Linked DNA regions of Homo sapiens. The protein of the gene in region 1 purifies or fractionates together with the protein of each later gene. This does not show direct contact. Each region holds a gene or a part of one and is shown on either strand. Other genes may lie near its edges.

Region 1 (3,500 bases):
AGACTCAGAAGGAAGAAGGTGAGAGGAGGGGCGTGAAGGTAAAAAAACTACGTATTGGGTATAATGTACACTACTCAGCTTACAGATGCACTAAAATCTCAGGATTCACCACTATAGAATTCATCCATGTTACAAAAAAACGCTCGAACCCAAAAAGCTATTGAAATACACACACACACACACACACACACACACACACACACTACTTATAAATTAAAAAAAGGTAATTTAAAGTACTTTTACAATTATACCATGACCAGCAAACCAGCCCTCACTGCTGAAGGCATTGTTTGTCTCCACCAAGACAGTCTACATCTGCCACTGTTCAGAGTCCAAGATTCTAAGCAGCGTCCTCTATAGTCATCTAGGAAGAGATCTGGGGATCAACTGAGTCTTTTGGCTTAGAGATGGGTTAAGTTCTTTATGTTTGAGTGCCCACTGGAGTGCCCCATAATTGTTTGTTAACTATGGAAAGAAAAGAAGAAAGACAGGCAAGAAAGAGGGAAGAAAATAGGAAGAAAATGAAGAAGGAAGGGAGGGAGGAAATAAAGGAAAGAGAAAGGAAAAGAAGGAGGAAAGGAAGGGAAAAAGATGAATGGAAGGAAGGAAATAGGGAACAAAGAAGAAGGGAGGAGAGAGGAAAATGGAGAATGAAATAACGGGGAAAAGAATGAAAAAAAGGAGGAAAGAAAATGAAGGAGGGAAGGAAGAAAACAGGAAAGGGGAAAGAAAGGAAAGAAAGAGGAAAGGAAGGAGTGAGCAAGGAAGAAAAAAGAAAAGAAAGAAGGGAGGAAGAATGGAGAGAAATGGAGAGAGGAGAAGGGAAAGAAAGAAGAAAGTGAGGGAGGAGAAAAAAGAGGATGAGAGAAAGAGTTATCAGGCAGGGTGAGAGAAAGGCATGGCCCAGGAAAGAAGCTAAGTGGAAAGGCTCTTCTTTATCTGTACTGCGTTCTCCCCAGGTTGTCATCTGTGCCAATCCAAAAGGCATGAAAATCAAGTCTGGATCCATGGGGAAGGCGTCCCCACCCTACGATGTGCAGGTAGCAGCCTCCCCCAACTTCTGGCAAGGCCTGGCATGGAGAGGAGAAAGACACACAGGCCTGGTTGGCACGGGCTGCTGGGCTGCTGGGAGAGGCCCAGGGTGTAGACACTCACGTATGCACCTCTGTGATGATTTCCTTACCAGATTGTGGATGATGAGGGCAACGTCCTGCCTCCTGGAGAAGAGGGGAATGTTGCCGTCCGTATCAGACCCACTCGGCCCTTCTGTTTCTTCAATTGCTATTTGGTAAGAGACGGGGAACAGCCGTTCTCATGACAGTGACTGTGTGCTAAGCATTGTGCACCACACTTTGTAAATATCTATTTGTTTAATCCTTACAATGACTGCATGAGGTAGGTTGCTACTATTATTAATAAAGTTCTGTTATTGATAAGGAAGACTATTATTGATAAGGAAGCTACTACAAAGGGGAAGTGACTTATCCAGCATCATGCAAATAGTACAGGCAGGACATGGGATTTAAATGTGGGTGTGTCTGAAAGCGTAAACATGACATGAGGGCAGCACTGTTGTTTTAATGAGGTGAAAATCGAGGTACAGTAAAGGAAAGGAGCTTCTGAAGGTCAAACTGCAGCCGGGTGCAGTGGCTCACATCTGTAATCTCAGCACTTTCAGAGGCCGAGGCAGGTGGATCACCTGAGGTCAGGAGTTCAACACCAGCCTGGTCAGCATAGTGAAACCCCGTTTCTACCAAAAATACAAAAATCAGCCAGGCATGGTGGCGCACGCCTCTATTCCCAGCTACTTGGGAGGCTGAGACAGGAGAATTGCTTGAACCAGGGAGGTTGCCGTGAGCCAGGATCATTCCACTGCCCTCCAGCCTGGGTGAGGGAACGAGACTCCGTATCAAAAAAAAAAAATAATAATAATAATAAAATAAATAAATACATAAAGGTCAAACTGCACTATTGTGTCAGAGCTGTCTTCAGGATTCTCTTTGTGGTTTGCTAGCAGGGCACAAACCTGGGATTTCAGTCCAAGTTTCTGGGATAATTCAGTAACTGCTTCTCTTTTGTATTCATCTTGGGTGGTGTTTATGTCGGGCTTTCTTTTCTTCACAGCTTTCTCTATAAAACTCTCAGACCTGGCTGTGCATTAGAAACACCTGGCAAGCCTCAGTTATTGCTGATGCTTGAGCCCCACCTCAGCTTAATTAAAATCAACATTTCTGTTGGTGTGGATCAGTTTCCCAGGCGATTCGAATGTCAAGCCTGAGAGCCACTGCTTAATAGAAATGCCATCTCATGTGTCTACTAAGCTGTCAATCAGCTACAGAATTAGAAGGAGCAGAAATAAATCAGTCCATTTCTTTTCAAAATGTTGCATTTTAGTGGTTTTTCTGTCACTACAAGAGAAATAATCTTCTACTTTATTTTGTTTAAAATCACAGAAACTTACAAAATCCCACAACATAGTAATCATGCCAAGCTGAGATCATGTTAACATTTAATGTATTTTCTGCTAATCAGTCTTGGAAGCAATAGTAAATCTTTGACCCCACTGAAAAAATGCATTCATTCATTATTTATTGTCGACTTCGTGCCGCTCGGTGTGGAGCAGGACTCTGGTACTTAGTGTGGAGCAGGACTCTGGTACTTACTGCACTTGTACACTTTCTTTCTGGTTGTGAGATTGTTCCACTGAGTGTACTAAAGTAATTTGAAAAGTTATTTGCTAGACAACAATCTAGTTTTTTTGACTGTTTCTTTCCGTCACCTGTACCAACAGTTAGTTTTCTTTCCAGATCATTCTTTTTTTTTTTTTTTTTTTTTTTTTTGTGACAGTGTCTTCTCACTCTGTTGCCCAGGCTGGAGTACAGTGGTGCGATCTTGGCTCACTGCACTTCCACCTCCTGGGCTCAAGCAACTCTCGCGCTCCAGTCTCCCAAGTAACTGGGACTACAGGCGCACACCACTTCACCGGGGTAATTTTGGTATTTTTAGTAGAGACAGGGTTTTGCCACCTTGGCCAGACTGGTCTGGAATTTCTGGCCTCAAGTGATCTGCCCGCCTCGGGCAACTCCCAAAGTGCTGGGATTACAGGCATCAGCCACAGTGCCCGGCCCAGCTCATTCTTAATTAAGAGAAAAATATTAAATGTCTTCGTGAGAATCAGGAAACATGTGAAAATTATTATAGAGGATCTCAGACCAAAATTGTTCTGTGAGTTTTGATAAGCTAAGCTCATTCTCCCCCTACAATAAACATAAACATTTCAAATTCACGTTGGTCATTCCCATTTAGCTGAAATTGCACATGTCAGTTAAATGAATATGCCCGTGTCAACTGTATATCCCATATAAGGAATGTGCTTATTTTCCTAGGGAAACAAATTATCAAATGCACAAATATTTGTTATAGTGCTGGCTGTTTATAACAGATAAAAAAGGTGGAGGGACTATCTAAATTTCTAATATCAGAAATTAGTTATGTAAAGG
Region 2 (3,500 bases), on another chromosome or scaffold:
CTCCAGGAACTTCCCTTTACAACAACTTCTCCCTCCAAATAGACTTCCTCTCATCATAGCATTTATTTTATTTTTCATTTTATTATTATTTTTCTGAGATGGAGCCTCACTCTGTCGCCCAGGCTGGAGTGCAGTGGTGCGACCTCGGCTCACTGCAACCTCCGCCTCCTGGGTTTACAGGTGCCTGTCACCACGCTGGGCTAATTTTTGTATTTTTAGTAGAGACAGGGTCTCAAACCCCTGACCTCAGGTGATCCACCTGCCTCAGCCTCCCAAAGTGCTGGGATTATAGGCGTGAGCCACCGCCCCCAGCCTGTTTTATTTTTACTTTTTGGGACGGAGTCTTGCTCTGTTGCCCAGGCTAGGGTGCAGTGGTGTGATCTTGGCTCACTGCAACTTCCCAGGTTCAGCGATTCTCCTGCCTCAGGCTACTGAGTAGTTGGGACTACAGGTGTGTCCTAACACCTCACCCGGCCAATTTTTATATTTTTAGTAGAGATGGGGTTTCGCCACGTTGGCCAGGCTGGTCTCGAACTCCTGACCTCAAGTGATCCACCCACGTCGGCCTCCCAAAGTGCTGGGATTACAGGCGTGAGCCACCACACAGGCCTCATTTATTCATCTTCTAACTCCACCCTCAGGCCCTACTTTACTGAAAATGGTCCTTTGAAATCCAGCAGCCTTTTTACTAAATCCAGTGGACACTTTTCAGTCCTTTTTTCCCCTTGGCTTCTTTTTTTTTGAGACAGGGTCTCACTCTATCACCCAGGCTGGAGTGCAGTGGGGCGCAATCTCGGCTCACTGCAGCCTCTACCTCCTGGGACCAGGTGATCCTCCCATCTCAGCCTGCTGGGTAGCTGGGACCACAGGCACAAGCTACTGCACCCGGCTAATTTTTTTTTTTTTTTTTGGTAGACACAGGGTCTCCCTGTGTTGCCCAGATTGGTCTGCCATGTGTTTTCATCCTTATCCCCAGCCTCTGCCTACACTGTTCCCTCCTGAAACACATCTTTACTTGGCCAACACTCACCTTTCAGATTGGAAAGTGATTCCTGCAGGACACCTTTTGTAACCTCCCCGAGTAATGCTAACCCCAGCTAACGTGCTCTCTTGGTACCTACACAGCACAGATCTCGCAGCACTGATATGGCCTATTTACCTTCAGCAGCCCTCACTAGATTGCAGATGCCAAGAGGGCAGAAAGTATATTGTTTTTCTTTATATCCTACGTAAGTTTAAAAATATTTCTTTGTGGCCGGGTGCGGTGGCTCACGCCTGTAATCCCAGCACTTTGGGAGGCCAAGTGGGGTGGATTGCCTGAGGTCAGGAGTTCGAGACCAGTCTGGCCAACATGGCGAAACCCCATCTCTATTAAAAATACAAAAAAATTAGCCGGGTGTGGTGGCGTACACCTGTAATCCCAGCTACTCGGGAGGCTGAGGCAGGGGAATTGCTTGAACCAGGGAGCTGGAGGTTGCAGTGAGCTGAGATCACACCACTGCATTTTAGCCTGGGTGACAGAGTGAGACTGTCTCAAAAAAAAAAATTCTTTGTATCTATTAAATATTTACTAAAACAAAGCAAAAAATAAATAAATACAACACTAACCAGGGTCCCAAGCTTACCTTAGGTCCATAGAAGGCACCATCTCCAGAGTTGAGGTCCCAGGGTTCTCCAAATTCCTTCAGGGCCTGTTTAAGGACCTTTGAAGGAATGAGACAAGAGTGGAATACATCATCTTAGACTTCAAAAGCAACACATCCGGTCAGTCCCCAACAAATGACCCACTCACCAGATGCCTCTGAGAACCTTGATTACTGTATTCTCCACTCCTTCCCACCAGAGAGTGGTTTATCTGCCTCTATTTCTCTACCTCCTACTCACCTGTTCGGCCTGGTCCCAAAGGCAAGGGTCCCCCAGGAAGCCAGATGGCCGGGTGGACAGTGCCAGGCGGAAGGAGAAGCCAAGAACGGCATAGACGGAACGGAGGAAATCAAGACAGCTTTGGATCTCTGCTTCCAGCTAGGGGCAGGAAATAAGGGTCAGTGAGCTGTGAGCCCGCTAGAGATCAGGGATGCTGGCAGTTTGAGGAAAACAAAGGGCAAAAACAGAGAGGAAGCGGAAGCAAGCTGGGGGTAGAATGTAGCTGAATTATAGTACATACAGGGGGCAAATAAAGATCAGGGGTTTGCAGGTTCATAGGGAGAAAGAAAGGTGGTTTAGAAAAGCTTTGGTGGAGCCAGGGAAAGGCCACCTGATCTGTTGTACAGAAGATGTGAGCGTCATCCTGCTGGAAGCACCGCAGTCGGGTCAGTCCCCCCAGACCACCAGAGGCTTCGGCCCGGTGTAGAGCCCCAAAGTCAGCTAGTCGCAGGGGCAGTTCCCGCCAGGATCTGGGCCGGTGGGCGAACATCAGGCTGAGGTTGGGGTGCAGAGGGGTCAGGGCCATAGGGAGGACTAGCCCCCGAAGACTGCTCCTCCACCCAATCTGCTTGCCTACTTTCTCTGCACCATCTGCTATAACCCTCTCCAGCCTCAGCACATCCTCCCACTGAGTCCTGTCAATCCCACTCATCACAGTCTGAGCCCTGAGGTTCAAAAGTGGATTTCTCAGTAACACAATAACAGACATCGTTTACCATTTCCCTGTTCTGTGATGGTCACTGAGCTGAAGGAGGAGCCTTAGATAGCAACTTTAAGGAGACTGAGACCTAAAGAGGTAAAATGAGTTTCCCAAATTTACATGGTTAGCTAGGGGGAAGACTGTAGGCTCAAATCGGTGTCCCAATACTCTTTCCAAGGTGCTTTCTTTTTTTTTTTTTTTTTGAGATGGAGTCTCGCTGTGTCACCCAGGCTGGAGTGCAGTGGCGCGATCTCGGCTCACTGCAAGCTCCACCTCCTGGGTTCACGCCATTAGCCTGCCTCAGCCTCCTGAGTAGCTGGGACTACAGGCGCCCGCCACCGTGCCCGGCTAATTTTTTGTATTTTTAGTAGAGACAGGGTTTCTCCATGTTGGTCAGGCTGGTCTCAAACTCCCGACCTCAGGTGATCCGCCCGCCTCGGCCTCCCAAAGTGTTGGGATTACAGGCGTGAGCCACCGTGCCCGGCCCCAAGGTGCTTTCTATTATTTAATATTTAGCAACCTGATTGTAACCCTAGCTCCCAGCTTACCAGTGTGCAGGGCAGTTCATAGGCTTGAGGGCGAGTGTATCTGTGATATGCCTGGTAGAATCGTCACTCTGGGAGCTGGGAGGCCTGTCAGAGCCTGGGGGCTGCACGGCAAACATGTCTTCCTGATAATGCTCCCAGTGCCCTGACTGTTCCCAGAGCTTCGTAGAAAACAGTGTGGGAGTTTTCACCTCGGAGAAACCACGATGGGCATACTCAGCCTGGAGAGGAGGGTACAGACATGGAAGGTCAGAGTAACTGGAAGGAAAGCAGGTAGGGTGTCAGCTGTGTGATCTTCCTGGGCCCTCAGGCCATGCTGATTGCAACCACAA
Region 3 (3,500 bases), on another chromosome or scaffold:
TGTACCTCTCTGGGATGAGGAGACCCCCCACCTCGCCGGCCCTCCAGGGCATTCACCAAGTGCAGGGTGTGGGTTCAGAGCTTCGAACTCAACAGGACCCTGCAGGCCCACAGCACTCCTCGAGGCAGGGCCCAACACCTGGCCCACTTTAGACACAGGAAACCGAAGCCCAGGGGTCACATGGGAGCTGGTGTGGCAGCCGGGGAACCCACACAGGTGGTCTGACTTTGGGGTCAATGCCCCTGAGCAAGACATGCTTTGGAGGACTGCTGGTACTTGGGGGCACAGGGGGTGTGGAGGCGGGTGGGCTTCTCAGCCAGAGGACTTGGACTCTAATCCTAACTTGCTATTTAGCTGAGAGAAACTACCCTAACCATGAGGTGTCCTCAACTAGGACATGGGGCCCACATTGCCTGCTCCACGTTGAGAGGATGCAGCGGGAAACATGTCTGCCCATGGCTGTGCGGGGCCCAGCATGCCGGGGGAATGTTGGGAAAAGGACTTGTGGGGTGCCTGTATAAACTGGCCATAAAAATAGGGGACAATAAGTTGTGGAAAGCCAGAAGAGGCCACGGAGGAGGAAAGCCTACTAATTGCCATCATGTTCCCATGCTCAGAGCGAGACCCGCTCTCCTATCTGTAAACACTGTGTTCAAGGAGAAAGACACTCCTTTGAAACACTGGGAAGTGGACAGATGTGCAGGCTCCTAGTTAAGCCCGCTCCCACCAGCTACTCTCCGATAAGTTAAAGACACGCTGTTTGAGCACAAAGGAGATTCATTTAAACTGCTATTGCTATAGATTATGCCTCCTATGAGGCACTGCCTCCCTTTCACTGTTTCGCCCTGAACATGTGCTTCTTAGAGCTAAGTGACTGCACTCAATAGTGTGGAGACCAGAACTCTGCGCCTTTTGCAGCCTCCATTTTGCAACTGGCCCCTGGCTCCCACCTTCATGAACTCTTAACCTGTCTCTTCTCATTCCTTTGTTGCCAGCAGACTTCGGGTACCCTACAGGTGGAGTTGAGGCTGGTCCCCAACAGGGGAAGAGGCCTGGGTGTGCAGCCCCAGCACGGCCCCCAAGAGGCACCTTTGATGAGGGTGTTGTATGCCTTGGCCCAGGAGTTGCGGTGGTTGGAGGTGAGGATGCCCACAGGCTCCTTGTTGGTCTGTAGGGATGAGTTCCAGATCTTCTCCAGCTGCACAAAGATCTGATCCGCAGTGAGGGGTGTCCCGTCACTGTGGTACACATCCAGCTCAAAAAACTGTTGGGGCACAGGCAGGTAAGAGGAGGGAGCTGAGTGGGGACCTCAGGCTGAGAGCAGCCACCTCCCCACACCTGCCTCCTCCTGGCCTTGGCCTTGGAGGGGATGGAGTCAGGCCAAGGGTGAGAGGGGGAGGAGGTCCTTGGATCACCCTTCTGGGCTGGGCAGGCCCACGGCCCCTCCTGGCCTCCCTGGGCCCCCAATGGAGAAGCCAGGGGCGCCCATTCCTGGGGCACGTGGGCACGTGTGCTGGGGAACCCCAGTGGGGAAGCCGACTGCGGCCGTCCGGCTGTACTCCTGCAGCAGGGCCGGGGCTTGTAGGTGTGGGTGGGGGCCACCCACCTGGTAGTTGTGTACCACGGTGATGTGCGTGGGAGGCTTCTTGGTCTTGCTGAAGTTGCTGACTGTGTCCTGCTTGGGGCCCGGCACTCGGCAGGAGGACAAGATCTGATAGTACTGGTTCATGCACAGTGGCTTCCCCCCCAGGTACTCCACGGGCAGGGTCTCGCTATGGGGTAGAGGGGCAGTGAGGCCACCACTGGGCAAGTGAATGGGGAGGAGGGCAGGGTAGACAGGGACCTGCTAGGTACTGCTGGGGGCTCACACAGTGTCCCTGCTCCCACTCCCAGATGAGCAGGACACCTCAGGGCTGTGCTGTGGGCAGGGGGCTCGCTTTCTGCCCCAGATGGGCCCTGTTCAGAAGTCATCTAGAAACTCCCTCCTTTCCCCTCTCTGGGCTTCAGTTTGTCACAGGGGAGATGAAGCAGCGAATAAAACTCTGGGGTCCTCTTTAGTTGGGATGGGACAGGGTCACCCACCAAGAGGAGATTCCAGCAGCTGGAGCAGGGCCCAGGGCCCAAGCTGGCATGCCGGGCCAGGGCTGGGGTCAGAGGTGGCTGTGGTAATTAAGCAGGCCTGGGCAGGTGTGGGGCTGGGCAGGGGTGGGGATGCTCACTTGTCAATCATGACCTTGAAATCCAACACACCCTCAATGAGTTTGGCAGCAAATCTGGAAAGATTGATTAGAGATTAGAAGCTGCGTGGACACCCTGAGGGAGGCCCCGGGCTAGGGACACCTGCTTGGGGAGCGGGAGGTCTAGTCTTCCAGCCTCTCTCACCGCTTCCAGAAAGCCTGGGAGCGCAAGGGAGGGGCCTGCGAGTCCCAGCTTGCCAGCCTGTGTGTGCTTCTTCATAACCTCTAGAGGGAGCATGGTCGGGAGGGCTCGGGGAAGTGCTGGTGGCCAAGGGCCTAGTAGGACTTGGGTGCTGGCCCCCTGCAGCTGGAGTGTGGCTTGGTTAGGGGTCAGTGGGCTGGGTCTACCCACAAAGGGCCTGAGCTCCTGAACCTCAGCCTAGAATCTGGAGGGGGTGTCATCTGCTCTGAAGCATCGGTTCTGGAGGCCCCGGGCCCCTGGGGTGGTGTGATGGGAGAGCAGTGGCTCCGGTGTTCCCTCCACTAGGTCCCTTCCCCACTCTGGGCCTCTGTGTCCCCCAGGCCGCCTTCCTCCCAGGGCTGTCTGGCCCATGGCAACCACCCTCAATGCTTGGGGCCGCCCCTGGATCCCACCATGGGGACCAGTGGCTGGAGTTCCTGGGCCTGAACCCCGGCCCTTCCCAGGGTACCCTGGTCCCTTTAAGAGAAGCAGGTGGTGGCAGCCAGTGGCTGGTCCTTGGGCAGGAGATCCTTGTCACTGGTATTTTTATCTCTGGTAGGACTGGAATAGGGGCTGGGGCAGGTGACCTGGCTGAATGTGGAAAAGAGGACTGTGTACAGAGGTCACCCCTGTGGCTAGCTGAGAAGAGTGGAAAGGAGAGGTGAAGTGCTAAAACTGGGGTCGGGGAGAAGCCTCAGGTATGGAGGAGGATGGGGCCTCTGCGAAGATGTGGTGGTTAACAGCCATGAGGCTTTAGAGCTGGAGAGACCCTGCTTCCTGAATGGGGTCTTGGGCAGCTCCCTTCCCTGCTCCGAGCCTCAATTTCCCCATTTGTAAAATAGGGAGGATGCTCCCTACTTCATAAGGCTGCTTGTGGGGCAGAAAGATAAACAGGGTCGGGGCCCCTCCAAGCGGCTGGGCGAAGTGAACTCGAGGGGCCCGGCTGCCTCCTGGCCCCCAAACCCCAGCCACTCACCGGAGCTGACCCTGCAGGTCCACGAAGTCCTGCTTGGGTAGCATCACGCCTGGGCTCGAGTAGATGACCACAGGCTGGCGGTACTGGAGGTAGGCGGTCTTGAGCC
Region 4 (3,500 bases), on another chromosome or scaffold:
AGGCGGATCACGAGGTCAGGAGATCAAGACCATCCTGGCTAACACAGTGAAACCCCATCTCTACTAAAAAATACAAAAAATTAGCCAGGCGTGGTGGCAGGCACCAGTAGTCCCAGCTACTCAGGAGGCTGAGGCAGGAGAATGGTGTGAACCCAGGTGGCGGAGCATGCAGTGAGCCAAGATCACGCCACTGCACTTCAGCCTGGGCGACAAAGCAAGACTCCGCCTCAAAAACAAAGTAAAAAAATAAAATAATTAGCCTGGCATGGTGGCATACAGCTGTAGCTGTAGCTACTCGGGAAGCTGAGGCGAGAGGATCGCTTGAACCCATCCTGGGCAACAGAGCAGGAGACTCTGTCTCTAAAAATAAAATTAAAAGGGTAATTTTTAAAAAGTAAAATAAAGATAAAAAAGAACAATGGAAGAAATTTCAAATTTGACTACATAAAACTTGACATTTTCAGTATGTTAAAAAAATTTATAACATGTCAGACAGAAGGTTAATATCCTTGTAAAGCACTCTTACATATTAATATGAAAATACCTAACCAAAAATGGTCAAAGCATATGAAAAGATAATAACTCATAGAAAATGTTATAGAAATAGCCAATACATTTGTGGAGAAAAAAAAGTCTGCCTCTCTAATTATCATGAAAGGCAAATTTAAAACAAGATGCTTTTGTTTTTGTTTTTGTTTTTTTTTAAATACCTGTCAAATTTGCTGAGAATACTTTAACGTAACTATTCAGGGCCAGGCACAGTGGCTCATGCCTGTAATTCCAGCACTTTGGGAGGCCGAGGCAGCAGGATCGATTGAGCTCAGGAGTTTGAGACCAGCCTGGGCAACATAACAAGACTTCATCTGTAAAAAATTTAAAAATTAGCCAAGTGTGGTGGCATGCACCTGTAGTTCTAGCTACTCAGGAGGCTGAGGCGGGAGGATCCCTTGAGCCCAGGAATTTGAGGTTGCAGTGAGCTGTTTGGTGCCACTGTACTCTAGCCTGGGTGACAAAGCGAGACTCTCTCTCAAAAAAATAAAAATAAAGGCATAATTATTCCCCATGCTATTGCAAAGATGGCAGAATAGACTTTTACACGCCAGTGATAGGTGTGGTTGGTGTAACCTTGCCAGGAAGCACTTCGGCTATCAGGTTGATTGTGTTATATCCTCTGATCCAGGAGTGTTCACTGCAGATAATTTATAATCACAGAGACTCGGAACCCCAGTGTCCTCTGATGGGGGAATTGTGAAATGACTTATGTCATATCAATAAGAAAGGAATGTGCCACCACCATTAACCTCATGTCTTGAAGAATACTTAATATCAGAAACTGTTTATGATATAATGTTAAGTAAAAACACATGACACAAGGCCAGGCACAGTGGCTCACGCCTGTAATCCCAGCACTGCGGGAGGTCAAGGCAGATAGATCGCTTGAGGTCAGGAGTTCAACACCAACCTGCTCAACATGGTGAAACCCTGTCTCTACTAAAAATACAAAAAATCAGCCAGGGTGTGGTGGTGCACACCTGTGCACCTGTAGTCCCAGGCACTCAGGAGGCTGAGGCAGGAGGATTGCTTAAACCTGTAGGCAGAGGTTGCAGTGAGCTGAGATCACACCACTGCACTCCAGCCTGGGCAACAGAGAGAGACTCTGTCTCAAAAAAAAAAGATACAAAAGTGTTCATATGAGCTGGGTGCAGTGGTTCACACATGTAATCCTAGCATTTTGGGAGGCCAGGGCAGGCAGATGGCTTGAGCCCAGGATTTCGAGACCAGCCTGAGCAATATAGTGAGATACCCCATCTCTATTTAAAAAAAAAATTAATTTTTAAAATTAAAAAAAAGGAAGTGTTCATATGGCAAGAATACCAATCCTGAAAATGTTACATGTGTAATAAGCATTTATATACACATTTTTGCATTTTTGGAGACAAGGATAAAATATACCTTTTTTTCTAGGTTGTATAATTATGAGTAGTTTTTCATTTCCTGTATATTCTGTGCTGAGTGTGTGTTAGTTTTTTAATCAGAAAAAATAAAGCAAGACACTGAAATGAAACTGTAATGAATTTCTGTCTTTCCATTCCGGAATTTGGGAAGTCCTTAATAATAACACACAGAGCTAAACACAACTATGTTTGCCGGAATTGACCAAAGGTATTTCAGAGAATAGGGGTCCCTAAGTAGGGTATAGAGGCCCCCCTGCCCTAGGTGTTTCACAGTTTAACACCTTTGAGCAGGTCTCAGTGCATTTCTCTGTGGACCTGCAGCACAGAGGAAACCTAGCAGAGTGGGTAAGAGTTTGGCTACAGTGTGCCTGGGGGCAGATTGCCCTCCCTTGCTGATCCTTAGCTGCTTCATCTGTCCAATGGGGTAAGAATACCACCCTCAAAGAGTGGTGAGGACTAAATAAGTTAACATCATGTATTTGTTGTTGCTGCTGCTGGAGCTTTTTTTTTTTTTTAAAGATAGGGTCTCACTGTTGCCCAAGCTTCAGTGCAGTGGTGCAGTCATAGCTCACTGCAGCCTTGACCTCCTGGTCTTAAGTGATCCTCCCACTTCAGCCTCCTAAGTAACTGGGACTATAGGTGTGTGCAACTGTGCCTGGCTAATTTTTTTTTATTTTTTAATTTTTCATAGAGATGAGGTCTCACTATAGTGCCCAGGCTGGTCTCAAATTCTTGGCCTCCCAAAGTAGTGGGAGTATAAGTGTCAGCTACCACACCTGGCTTGCTGTAGTTTATCTCAGTGCTATCATTAAGTAGGGGAAGTTCATTGTCCCAAGCAGAAATGGATGGCAAAGGGGGTTTCTTCCTACCAGCTTGTGTCTCTGGACTTCAGATACATTAATGGTCTTTCTTACCCGTGCTTATTTTTACACCTCAGTCTTCTTACTTTTTTTTCCTCTTCCTTAGCAAGCCTCTCAGAGCGTCATTCTCCACAGCCCCGAGTTTGAGGATGCTTTGTGTGCCCTGATGGTAATGGCTGCTCCACTGGCCCCTCATGTAACCTCAGAGATCTGGGCAGGTACGTGGCAGAGTCCTTTTTTGACCAGTTACTACTAACTAGAATTTGTCGAAGCCTCTTTTTGAACATCATTCGGGACTCAGATGTCCTCAGATATAGGGTCCAACATTTGGCATCTATACTCAGCAACCTCTCTGTCCTGTACTCTGAATGGTAGTACTTCATCCACATGGTCACCCCTACCAAAAGGAAAGACACTTCCCTGCTTTGAATAATGTGCCCAGACTAATGTGGGTGTTGATGTTACCATCTTAATCCCTTCTCGTGACTCAGCCCCCCAGTATCCACATATTATGACCTGCGTGGTCTTTTTAAGATAAAAACTCATGTTTAATACCACTGTACAGGTGGAAATTAAGTTATAGGTCTAAACTTACACTGTAATTCAGCACTCTTCACCAATTATTCCTAATCTAGGCATCAAAGCAGGCCTGACTGCCTGCTTGAATTTCAGCCCCTAGAACCCT
Region 5 (2,616 bases), on another chromosome or scaffold:
AGTTGTAAAAAAGCACTATGATTAAAAACTCCTTTATTGGCAGTATTCTAAAACCTCATGTTAGGTTGACAGTCTTCTTCCCTTTCCCCAAATTTTAATACCCACCCCAGGTTTCTAAAGCAAAAAATTGAAGAGCATTTTCCTCCTGTGTTTATAATCCCAACTAAAACACTATGTAATACATGTTGGAAATATTACTGTGCTTTGTATATGTATTAATTTTTTTTGCCCTAAATTGGCCTCTAGGAATGTGAAAGTAGATGTACCCACCTGATAAGAAAAAGTGAGCTAAGTAACTAACTTGATAACTAGGCATTCAACAAGTCTTTTTCTCTATTTCATAGAATCAGTGTCACCTTAAATTATAATAGGTTTGCACAGAATTCGTGAATTCTTGAGATAGAGTCTTGCTCTGTTGCCCAGGCTGGAGTGCAGTGGCGTGATCTCGTTCACTGCAACCTCTGCCTCCCAGGTTCAGGCAATTCTCCTGCCTCAGCCACCTGAGTAGCTGGGATTACAGGTGTGTTCCACCACGCCCAGCTAATTTTTGTATTTTTAGTAGAGAGGGGTTTCGCCATGTTGGTCATTCTGGTCTTGAACTCCTGGCCTCAAGTGGTGCACCCACCTTGGCCTCCCAAAGTGATAGGATTACAGGCATCACTGTATCTGGCTGAAATTAGTGTATTCTTTAAAGTTCATATTTTTCATTAATTCACAGAAGAATTGTAAAAAAGGTAACACGCAGTTGACATTCCATTTTTCCAGAAAGACAGATAATTACATACTGTAGAGGATGACTCAAAAGTCTGTTTCAAGCCACTGACTTCCTAAACTAATGAAGGCCTATTCAAAGTCACTTAATTCAGCTGTTTTTTTTTTTTTTTTGATAAATACAAAGATACATGTAAAGTTTTACTTACCTGATTTTAAAAACAGGCTACCAAAATTTATCCAAATATATTAAAAAATGAGACTGTTTTAAAAACCTTTCGTTTCCATATTGTGACTCCACTAAGCGGGTAAAAAGTTCAGGACAGAGATGGAAAGGAAAGAAGGAAACAGGAAGAAGTGAAACTAGGAAGGTGGTGCCAGTGGCACATGGATGAAGAAAGAGAGATCATCAGCCATGGAGAATTTTGTAATGTAAGTAGAGAGAGAGATTGGGTAGGAAGACAGGCTTCACAGTTTGTAAAGTGTAAGGGAACTACCCATCGTACCCTGTCATTGACTAGGGCTGTGAGTTATGTAGTTCTGTCTCCTCTTGCAAAAGACTTACCACTTCTGGCAAGTGATTAACCACTTCTGGCAACTCTTCATTTCTTCTTATCCTTGAATATTCATCTACATCACTCTAAACAGCACAGCCCCAGAAGCATGGAAAGGGGAGTTATTAGTATGGAAAGGGGAGTTACTCTTCTGGTGTAGTGGTCCGATTGAGTCCATGGCTTCCCAGCCTTACCAGAGGTGATAAAAATGTCAATTCCTTTGGGGCCAATCTTGCTCCTCCAGTGTGTTTTAGCCCTAATGAGGTCATGGTTATTTCTAGACTTCTGAGACTTACTGTGGCTTTGAATTGACACAAACACTAATTTTCTGTCAAAGGCTAGAGTGATGGATGTTATATGCCTGAATTTTCTTTGAACATTTTATTTTAAAAGAGATACTTTGGGCTTTTCATGAAACTAAAATTCTGGAACCCTAGAGCAGTCTATTATATCTGTCACCACAAGGACTTTCCTTAAAAAGCTCCCTCCATAAGCACTTGGATGTGTAAACAAGATCCTTTCACAGATCTTTTTCTCTTCCTCTCCATATCCCAACTTGTCTTGGAGACTACTTTTTGAATTATAAATCCCTTTCTGCATTTCTATTATTAATTTTTATTTGTAAAATTGCTAAAATAGCTAAATTTGGCCATTTAACCTGCATTTAAAATCTAGGAATGTGGGGTGATCATCTTTGTACATAAATTACCTAATGACCCTGTCCATGCTGTGCTACGTGTTTAGGTGGAATAACACTCCCATGGATGAAGCACTGCACTTTGGACACCATGATGTATTTAAAATTCTCCAAGAATACCAAGTCCAGTACACACCTCAAGGAGATTCTGACAACGGGAAGGAAAATCAAACCGTCCATAAGAATCTTGATGGATTGTTGTAATGGTCTCAAATCCCAAGATTTAAATCACTTACCTATTTAATTGTGGAAAATGATTATGAAGAACATGTGTATTTCTATCTGGTAGTGATGTATATTTTACATTTGTCATTTCAGTGTTACTGGAGTTTTCTTCATTGTGCACACAGGACAAATCTGATCTCTTTGGGAAAAAATAGAAATAAAACAATCTCCCTCCATAATGTGAGCAATATTACCTCGTGCATTGTATAATTTGATGTAAAAGAAATAGTTACCAATGCTAGCTTGTGTGGTCTTCCATGATTTATTTGTGTTTTGTGAATTTTCAATTTATGGTGATGATCTGCTGATATGCATTTATAAAGTAAGCTCTGTTGTACAGTCTGTCCAAATGGGTCAAGGTTGCCTTTAGAAGCAAATAGTGTGATTTTCAAGACTTCAAATACAAATTTAGTTTAAGTGTTTGAACAA
Region 6 (3,500 bases), on another chromosome or scaffold:
AACAAAATTGATAGACCGCTAGCAAGACTAATAAAGAAAAAAAGAGAGAAGAATCAAATAGACACAATAAAAAATGATAAAGGGGATATCACCACCAATCCCACAGAAATACAAACTACCATCAGAGAATACTACAAACACCTCTACGCAAATAAACTAGAAAATCTAGAAGAAATGGATACATTCCTCGACACATACACTCTCCCAAGACTAAACCAGGAAGAAGTTGAATCTCTGAATAGACCAATAACAGGCTCTGAAATTGTGGCAATAATCAATAGCTTACCAACCGAAAAGAGTCCAGGACCAGATGGATTCACAGCAGAATTCTACCAGAGGTACAAGGAGGAACTGGTACCATTCCTTCTGAAACTATTCCAATCAATAGAAAAAGAGGGAGTCCTCCCTAACTCATTTTATGAAGCCAGCATCATCCTGATACCAAAGCCGGGCAGAGACACAACCAAAAAAGAGAATTTTAGACCAATATCCTTGATGAACATTGATGCAAAAATCCTCAATAAAATACTGGCAAACCGAATCCAGCAGCACATCAAAAAGCTTTTCCACCATGAGCAAGTGGGCTTCATCCCTGGGATGCAAGGCTGGTTCAATATACACAAATCAATAAATGTAATCCAGCATATAAACAGAGCCAAAGACAAAAACCACATGATTATCTCAATAGATGCAGAAAAAGCCTTTGACAAAATTCAACAACCCTTCATGCTAAAAACTCTCAATAAATTAGGTATTGATGGGACGTATTTCAAAATAATAAGAGCTATCTATGACAAACCCACAGCCAATATCATACTGAATGGGCAAAAACTGGAAGCATTCCCTTTGAAAACTGGCACAAGACAGGGATGCCCTCTCTCACCGCTCCTATTCAACATAGTGTTGGAAGTTCTGGCCAGGGCAATCAGGCAGGAGAAGGAAATAAAGGGTATTCAATTAGGAAAAGAGGAAGTCAAATTGTCCCTGTTTGCAGACGACATGATTGTTTATCTAGAAAACCCCATCGTCTCAGCCCAAAATCTCCTTAAGCTGATAAGCAACTTCAGCAAAGTCTCAGGATACAAAATCAATGTACAAAAATCACAAGCATTCTTATACACCAACAACAGACAAACAGAGAGCCAAATCATGGGTGAACTCCCATTCACAATTGCTTCAAAGAGAATAAAATACCTAGGAATCCAACTTACAAGGGATGTGAAGGACCTCTTCAAGGAGAACTACAAACCACCGCTCAAGGAAATAAAAGAGGACACAAACAAATGGAAGAACATTCCATGCTCATGGGTAGGAAGAATCAATATCGTGAAAATGGCCATACTGCCCAAGGTAATTTACAGATTCAATGCCATCCCCATCAAGCTACCAATGACTTTCTTCACAGAATTGGAAAAAACTACTTTAAAGTTCATATGGAACCAAAAAAGAGCCCGCATTGCCAAGTCAATCCTAAGCCAAAAGAACAAAGCTGGAGGCATCACACTACCTGACTTCAAACTATACTACAAGGCTACAGTAACCAAAACAGCATGGTACTGGTACCAAAACAGAGATATAGATCAATGGAACAGAACAGAGCCCTCAGAAATAATGCCGCATATCTACAACTATCTGATCTTTGACAAACCTGAGAAAAACAAGCAATGGGGAAAGGATTCCCTATTTAATAAATGGTGCTGGGAAAACTGGCTAGCCATATGTAGAAAGCTGAAACTGGATCCCTTCCTTACACCTTATACAAAAATCAATTCAAGATGGATTAAAGATTTAAATGTTAGACCTAAAACCATAAAAACCCTAGAAGAAAACCTAGGCATTACCATTCAGGACATAGGCATGGGCAAGGACTTCATGTCCAAAACACCAAAAGCAATGGCAACCAAAGCCAAAATTGACAAATGGGATCTAATTCAACTAAAGAGCTTCTGCACAGCAAAAGAAACTACCATCAGAGTGAACAGGCAACCTACAACATGGGAGAAAATTTTCGCAACCTACTCATCTGACAAAGGGCTAATATCCAGAATCTACAATGAACTCCAACAAATTTACAAGAAAAAAACAAACAACCCCATCAAAAAGTGGGCAAAGGACATGAACAGACACTTCTCAAAAGAAGACATTTATGCAGCCAAAAAACACATGAAGAAATGCTCATCATCACTGGCCATCAGAGAAATGCAAATCAAAACCACTATGAGATATCATCTCACACCAGTTAGAATGGCAATCATTAAAAAGTCAGGAAACAACAGGTGCTGGAGAGGATGTGGAGAAATAGGAACACTTTTACACTGTTGGTGGGACTGTAAACTAGTTCAACCATTGTGGAAGTCAGTGTGGCGATTCCTCAGGGATCTAGAACTAGAAATACCATTTGACCCAGCCATCCCATTACTGGGTATATACCCAAAGGGCTATAAATCATGCTGCTATAAAGACACATGCACACGTATGTTTATTGCGGCACTATTCACAATAGCAAAGACTTGGAACCAACCCAAATGTCCAACAATGATAGACTGGATTAAGAAAATGTGGCACATATACACCATGGAATACTATGCAGCCATAAAAAATGATGAGTTCATATCCTTTGTAGGGACATGGATGAAATTGGAAACCATCATTCTCAGTAAACTATCGCAAGAACAAAAAACCAAACACCGCATATTCTCACTCATAGGTGGGAATTGAACAATGAGATCACATGGACACAGGAAGGGGAATATCACACTCTGGGGACTGTGGTGGGGTCGGGGGAGGGGGGAGGGATAGCATTGGGAGATATACCTAATGCTAGATGACACATTAGTGGGTGCAGCGCACCAGCATGGCACATGTATACATAGGTAACTAACCTGCACAATGTGCACATGTACCCTAAAACTTAGAGTATAATAAAAAAAAAAAAAAAAGAAGAAAAGTACAATTGTTCCAATAGAAAAATGTGAGAAAGGACTGAACAGACAAATCATTAAAGCAGGAGTCAGCAAACATTTTCTATAAAGAGCCAGATGGTAAATATTTTCAAACTTTGTGGGCTATATGAGTGAATGGAGCTATAGACAATATGTAACAACATGGACAGCATGTGTTCTGAAACAGGCATTACAAAACCAAGCACCAGATTTGACTCATCAACCATAGTTTGGTAGTCCCTGCATTAAAGAAACATAGATGTCTAACAAATATAGAAAGTATTCTTATTAGCCTTAGTAAGCAAATAAGTTAAAATTATTACAAGATAGCAGTTCCACTTTAGTTACCAAATTAGAAAAAAATATATTTTAAAAATAAGAATACTCCATTTTGATGGACACATATGTACTGTTGGAGGGAATGAAGATAAGTAGACTTTCTAAAAAGTAATTTGATTATGTATATCAGAACTCTTAAAAGTTTATATCTTTGAAATTTCTAAATACAAAGATACGAACTTTTAAGAAATGTAATATACATTCTATTTCTAAATTATA
Region 7 (3,500 bases), on another chromosome or scaffold:
TTTTTTTTTTGAGACAGAGTCTCACTTTGTCACCCAGGCTGGAGTGCAGTGGCGCGATCACTGCAGCCTCAAACTTCTGGGCTCAAGCAATTCTCTCGCCTCAGCCTCCTGAGTAGCTGGGACCACAGTTGTGCACCATCCGCCCGGGTAATTTTTTTTTTTTTTTCCTTTGAGACAGAGTCTCGCTCTGTTGCCCAGGCTGGAGTGCAGTGGCACCGTCTTGGCTCATTGCAACCTCTGCCTCCTACATTCAAGCAATTCTCCTGCCACAGCCTCCTGAGTAGCTGGGATTACAGGTGCCTGCCACTATGCCTGGCTATTTTTTTTTTTTTTTTTTTGAGACGGAGTATCCCTCTGTCACCCAGGCTGGAGTGCAGTGGCGCCATCTTGGCTCACTGCAACCTCCACCTCCCGGGTTCAAGCCGATTCTCCTGCCTCACACTCCCAAGTAGCTGGGATTACAGGCATGCATCCACCACACCCGGCTAATTTTTGTATTTTTAGTAGAGACGGGGTTTCACCATGTTTGTCAGGCAGTGGTAGAGCTTTGGCACCAGGCTGCCCAGGGTTCAAGGGATGACTCTGCTATGTCCTCGCTTTGTGATCCGCCTGCCTCAGCCTTCCCAAGTGCTGGGATTACAGGCGTGAGCCACCACACCTGGCCGCCTGGCTAATTTTTGTACTTTTAGTAGAGACAGAATTTCACCATGTTGGCCAGGCTGGTCTTGAACTCCTGACCTCAAGTGATCCACCCACTTCGGCCTCCCAAAGTGTTGGGATTTACAGATGTGAGCCACGGTGCCCGGGAAGCCACTGTGCCTGGCCTGGGTAATTTAAAAAATATTTTTTTGTAGAGATAGGGTCTCCCTATGTTGCTCAAGTTGGTCTCAAGCGATCCTCCTGCCTCGGCCTCCCGAAGTGCTGGGGTTCTAGGCATGAGCCACTGCTCCTGGCCATAATAACATTTACTGAGAACCTGTAATGTGCAGTGTCCCATATACACACATGCTGCACTGAATCAATGAGTGTTCTATTCCGTACATGAGGACATTGAGGCTAACAAAGGGGAGGTCACTTGACTTTGGGTTACACAGCCGGATGTCGTGCAAGTCACATGAAATAATTTAGTGGGTTGCAACCAGCATTTAAAAAGAAGAATAGGACAGAAAATATGCATGCACCTGTAGAGCAAGGGAAAGTCTTGTTTCGTGAAACATATACCTTGGTCTGCACTGGTTATAACGTAAATGTCTTCTTATTGCTGATCATGGTTCAAGTTTTGTTTTTGTTTTTGTTTTTGAGATGGAGTCTTGCTCTGTCACCCAGACTGGAGTGCAGTGGCATGATCTCAGCTCACTGCAACCTCCACCTCCCAGGTTCAAGCAATTCTCCTGCCTCAGCCTCCTGAGTAGCGGGGGTTACAGATGCACGCCACCACGTCCAACTATTTTTTGTTGTTTTTTTTTTTTTTTTTCTTAGGGAGACAGGGTTTCACCATGTTGGCCAGGATGGTCTCGATCTCCTGACCTCATGATCCGCCTGCCTTGGCCTCCTAAAGTGCCAGGATTACAGACGTGAGCCACTGTGCCTGACCGCTAATTTCTGTATTTTTAGTAGAGATGGGGTTTCACCATGTTGGTCAAGCTGATCTCGAACTCCTCACCTCGTGATCCACCTGCCTCAGCCTCCCAAAGTGCTGGGATTATAGGCGTGAGCTACCATGCCCCGCCTGGTTCAAGTTTTAAAAATATAGATTCACTTGCTTGTACCCAGGAGGTAGAGATTGCAGTGAACCAAGATCGCACCATTGCACTCCAGCCTGGGCAGCAAGAGTGAAACTCTGTCTCAAAAAAAAAAAATCTATATATATATACATAGATAGATTCACAGTCTGCAGAGGCAGTCAAAGGCACTGGTTAGAGCTTTGGCACCAGGCTGCCCAGGGATTAAGGGATGACTCTGCTGTGTCCTCGCTTTGTGACGTGACTCTGGGCAAATTACTTCACTTCTCTGAACCTCAATTTCCTTTTCTGTAAAATGGAAGTTTTCTGTAAAATACATTTTATGAAGGTGGAGACCTCATGTAAGGACAAAAATTAGTAAGTGCACAGAAGGCACTGGGAACAGCCCCTGACATGTAGAAAGGACACAGAAAATGCCAGATATGGTAATTGACAGAGATGGTGACAACAAAAGAAGGAGAGAGACCCGAGACGTCTTTAGGGACAAGAGGAGAGGTAGCAGAGGAAATCAGAGATGGAGAGATAACATCAAAGGGAGGAAAAGAGAGAAAGAGATCTAGATAGATAGGACAAATGGGGAGAAGGCAAGAGATGCAGAAATAACTGGCTTAGAAAGGGAGAGGTCAAGCCTGGTAGCCCACACCTGTAATCCCAGCACTTTGGGAGGCCGAGGCAGGAGGATCACGTGAGTTCTGGAGTTCCAGACCAGCCTGGGCAACATAGTGAGACCCTGTCTCAATAAAAAATTAGGTGAGCGTGGTGGTATGCACGTGTGGTCTCAGCTACTCAGGAGGCTGAGGGAAGAGGATCACTTGAGCTCAGGAATTTGAGGCTGCAGTGAGTTATGATGGTGCCATTGCACTCCAGCCTGGGCGACAGAGTGAGACCCTGTCTCTAAAAAGAAAAAGAGATAAGCATAAAGAAGAGGAGGTGTGGACAGAGAAAGAAGAGTCACCAGAAGACAGAGGGACCTAGGACAATTGTTTCGGGGCCTTCTTTTTTTTTTTTTTTTTGAGACGGAGTTTCTCTCTTGTTTCCCAGGCTGGAGTGCAATGGTGTGATCTCGGCTCACCGCAACCTCTGTCTCCCAGGTTCAAGCGATTCTCCTGCCTCAGCCTCTTGAGTAGCTGGGATTACAGGCATGCACCACCACGCCCGGCTGATTTTGTATTTTTAGTAGAGACAGGGTTTCTCCACGTTGGCCAGGCTGGTCTCGACCTCCTGACTTCAGATGATCTGCCCACCTCGGCCTCCCAAAGTGCTGGGATCATAGGCATGAGCCACTGTGCCCGGCCGAGGGGCCTTCTTAACCTTGATCGCACATTAGAATTATCTGAGGTGCTTTTTAACAAAACACAAATTCCCATGTCTCAGGCCAATTTAATCAGAATTTGGGGAGTGGAGTCTGGGCATTATATTTACCGGAGCTCCTCTGGTAACTGGAATGTGCAGCCAGGGCTGAGAACTGCTGGGAGGGAGACAGAGACATGGAGAAAGGGTTAAAGAAAGAGGAAGCTGCACCTTAAAGGGAGCCCCATGCAGGAACAGAGTCAGAGACTGATTTGGAAACAGAGATACAAAGAATTGGGAGACAAGACTGAGTGCGGTGTCTCATGCCTATAATCCCAGCACTTTGGGAGGCCGAGGCGGGAGGATCACCTGAGGTCAGGAGTTCGAGACCAGCCTGGCCAACACGGTGAAACCCCGTCTCTACTAAAAATACAAAAAAAATTTAGCCAGGCGTGGTGGGCGCGTGCC

The links.
Region 2: the proteins of ACSM5 (region 1) and TARS2 purify together in Homo sapiens (affinity purification with mass spectrometry; one large-scale study listed by BioGRID and IntAct). This does not show direct contact.
Region 3: the proteins of ACSM5 (region 1) and CRAT purify together in Homo sapiens (affinity purification with mass spectrometry; one large-scale study listed by BioGRID and IntAct). This does not show direct contact.
Region 4: the proteins of ACSM5 (region 1) and LARS2 purify together in Homo sapiens (affinity purification with mass spectrometry; 2 studies listed by BioGRID and IntAct, with this or other methods). This does not show direct contact.
Region 5: the proteins of ACSM5 (region 1) and GLS purify together in Homo sapiens (affinity purification with mass spectrometry; one large-scale study listed by BioGRID and IntAct). This does not show direct contact.
Region 6: the proteins of ACSM5 (region 1) and TMLHE purify together in Homo sapiens (affinity purification with mass spectrometry; one large-scale study listed by BioGRID and IntAct). This does not show direct contact.
Region 7: the proteins of ACSM5 (region 1) and COQ8B purify together in Homo sapiens (affinity purification with mass spectrometry; one large-scale study listed by BioGRID and IntAct). This does not show direct contact.

What each region holds. Positions count from the first base shown.
Region 1 is NC_000016.10:20,430,034-20,433,533, forward strand, and holds part of ACSM5 (acyl-coenzyme A synthetase ACSM5, mitochondrial), read left to right. Parts: intron 1-959; coding exon 960-1,040; intron 1,041-1,186; coding exon 1,187-1,288; intron 1,289-3,500. UniProt on the Homo sapiens protein: Catalyzes the activation of fatty acids by CoA to produce an acyl-CoA, the first step in fatty acid metabolism.
Region 2 is NC_000001.11:150,497,419-150,500,918, reverse strand, and holds part of TARS2 (threonine--tRNA ligase, mitochondrial), read right to left. Parts: intron 3,390-3,500; coding exon 3,172-3,389; intron 2,418-3,171; coding exon 2,255-2,417; intron 2,023-2,254; coding exon 1,885-2,022; intron 1,704-1,884; coding exon 1,626-1,703; intron 1-1,625. UniProt on the Homo sapiens protein: Catalyzes the attachment of threonine to tRNA(Thr) in a two-step reaction: threonine is first activated by ATP to form Thr-AMP and then transferred to the acceptor end of tRNA(Thr). Also edits incorrectly charged tRNA(Thr) via its editing domain.
Region 3 is NC_000009.12:129,100,794-129,104,293, forward strand, and holds part of CRAT (carnitine O-acetyltransferase), read right to left. Parts: coding exon 3,395-3,500; intron 2,274-3,394; coding exon 2,220-2,273; intron 1,773-2,219; coding exon 1,607-1,772; intron 1,265-1,606; coding exon 1,090-1,264; intron 1-1,089. UniProt on the Homo sapiens protein: Catalyzes the reversible transfer of acyl groups from carnitine to coenzyme A (CoA) and regulates the acyl-CoA/CoA ratio. Also plays a crucial role in the transport of fatty acids for beta-oxidation.
Region 4 is NC_000003.12:45,521,076-45,524,575, forward strand, and holds part of LARS2 (leucine--tRNA ligase, mitochondrial), read left to right. Parts: intron 1-2,921; coding exon 2,922-3,033; intron 3,034-3,500.
Region 5 is NC_000002.12:190,960,821-190,963,436, forward strand, and holds part of GLS (glutaminase kidney isoform, mitochondrial isoform 1 precursor), read left to right. Parts: intron 1-2,009; coding exon 2,010-2,166; coding exon of another isoform or gene 2,167-2,206; 3' UTR 2,207-2,616. UniProt on the Homo sapiens protein: Catalyzes the first reaction in the primary pathway for the renal catabolism of glutamine. Plays a role in maintaining acid-base homeostasis. Regulates the levels of the neurotransmitter glutamate, the main excitatory neurotransmitter in the brain.
Region 6 is NC_000023.11:155,515,453-155,518,952, reverse strand, and holds part of TMLHE (trimethyllysine dioxygenase, mitochondrial isoform 1 precursor), read left to right. Parts: intron 1-3,500. UniProt on the Homo sapiens protein: Converts trimethyllysine (TML) into hydroxytrimethyllysine (HTML).
Region 7 is NC_000019.10:40,710,387-40,713,886, reverse strand, and holds part of COQ8B (atypical kinase COQ8B, mitochondrial), read left to right. Parts: intron 1-3,500.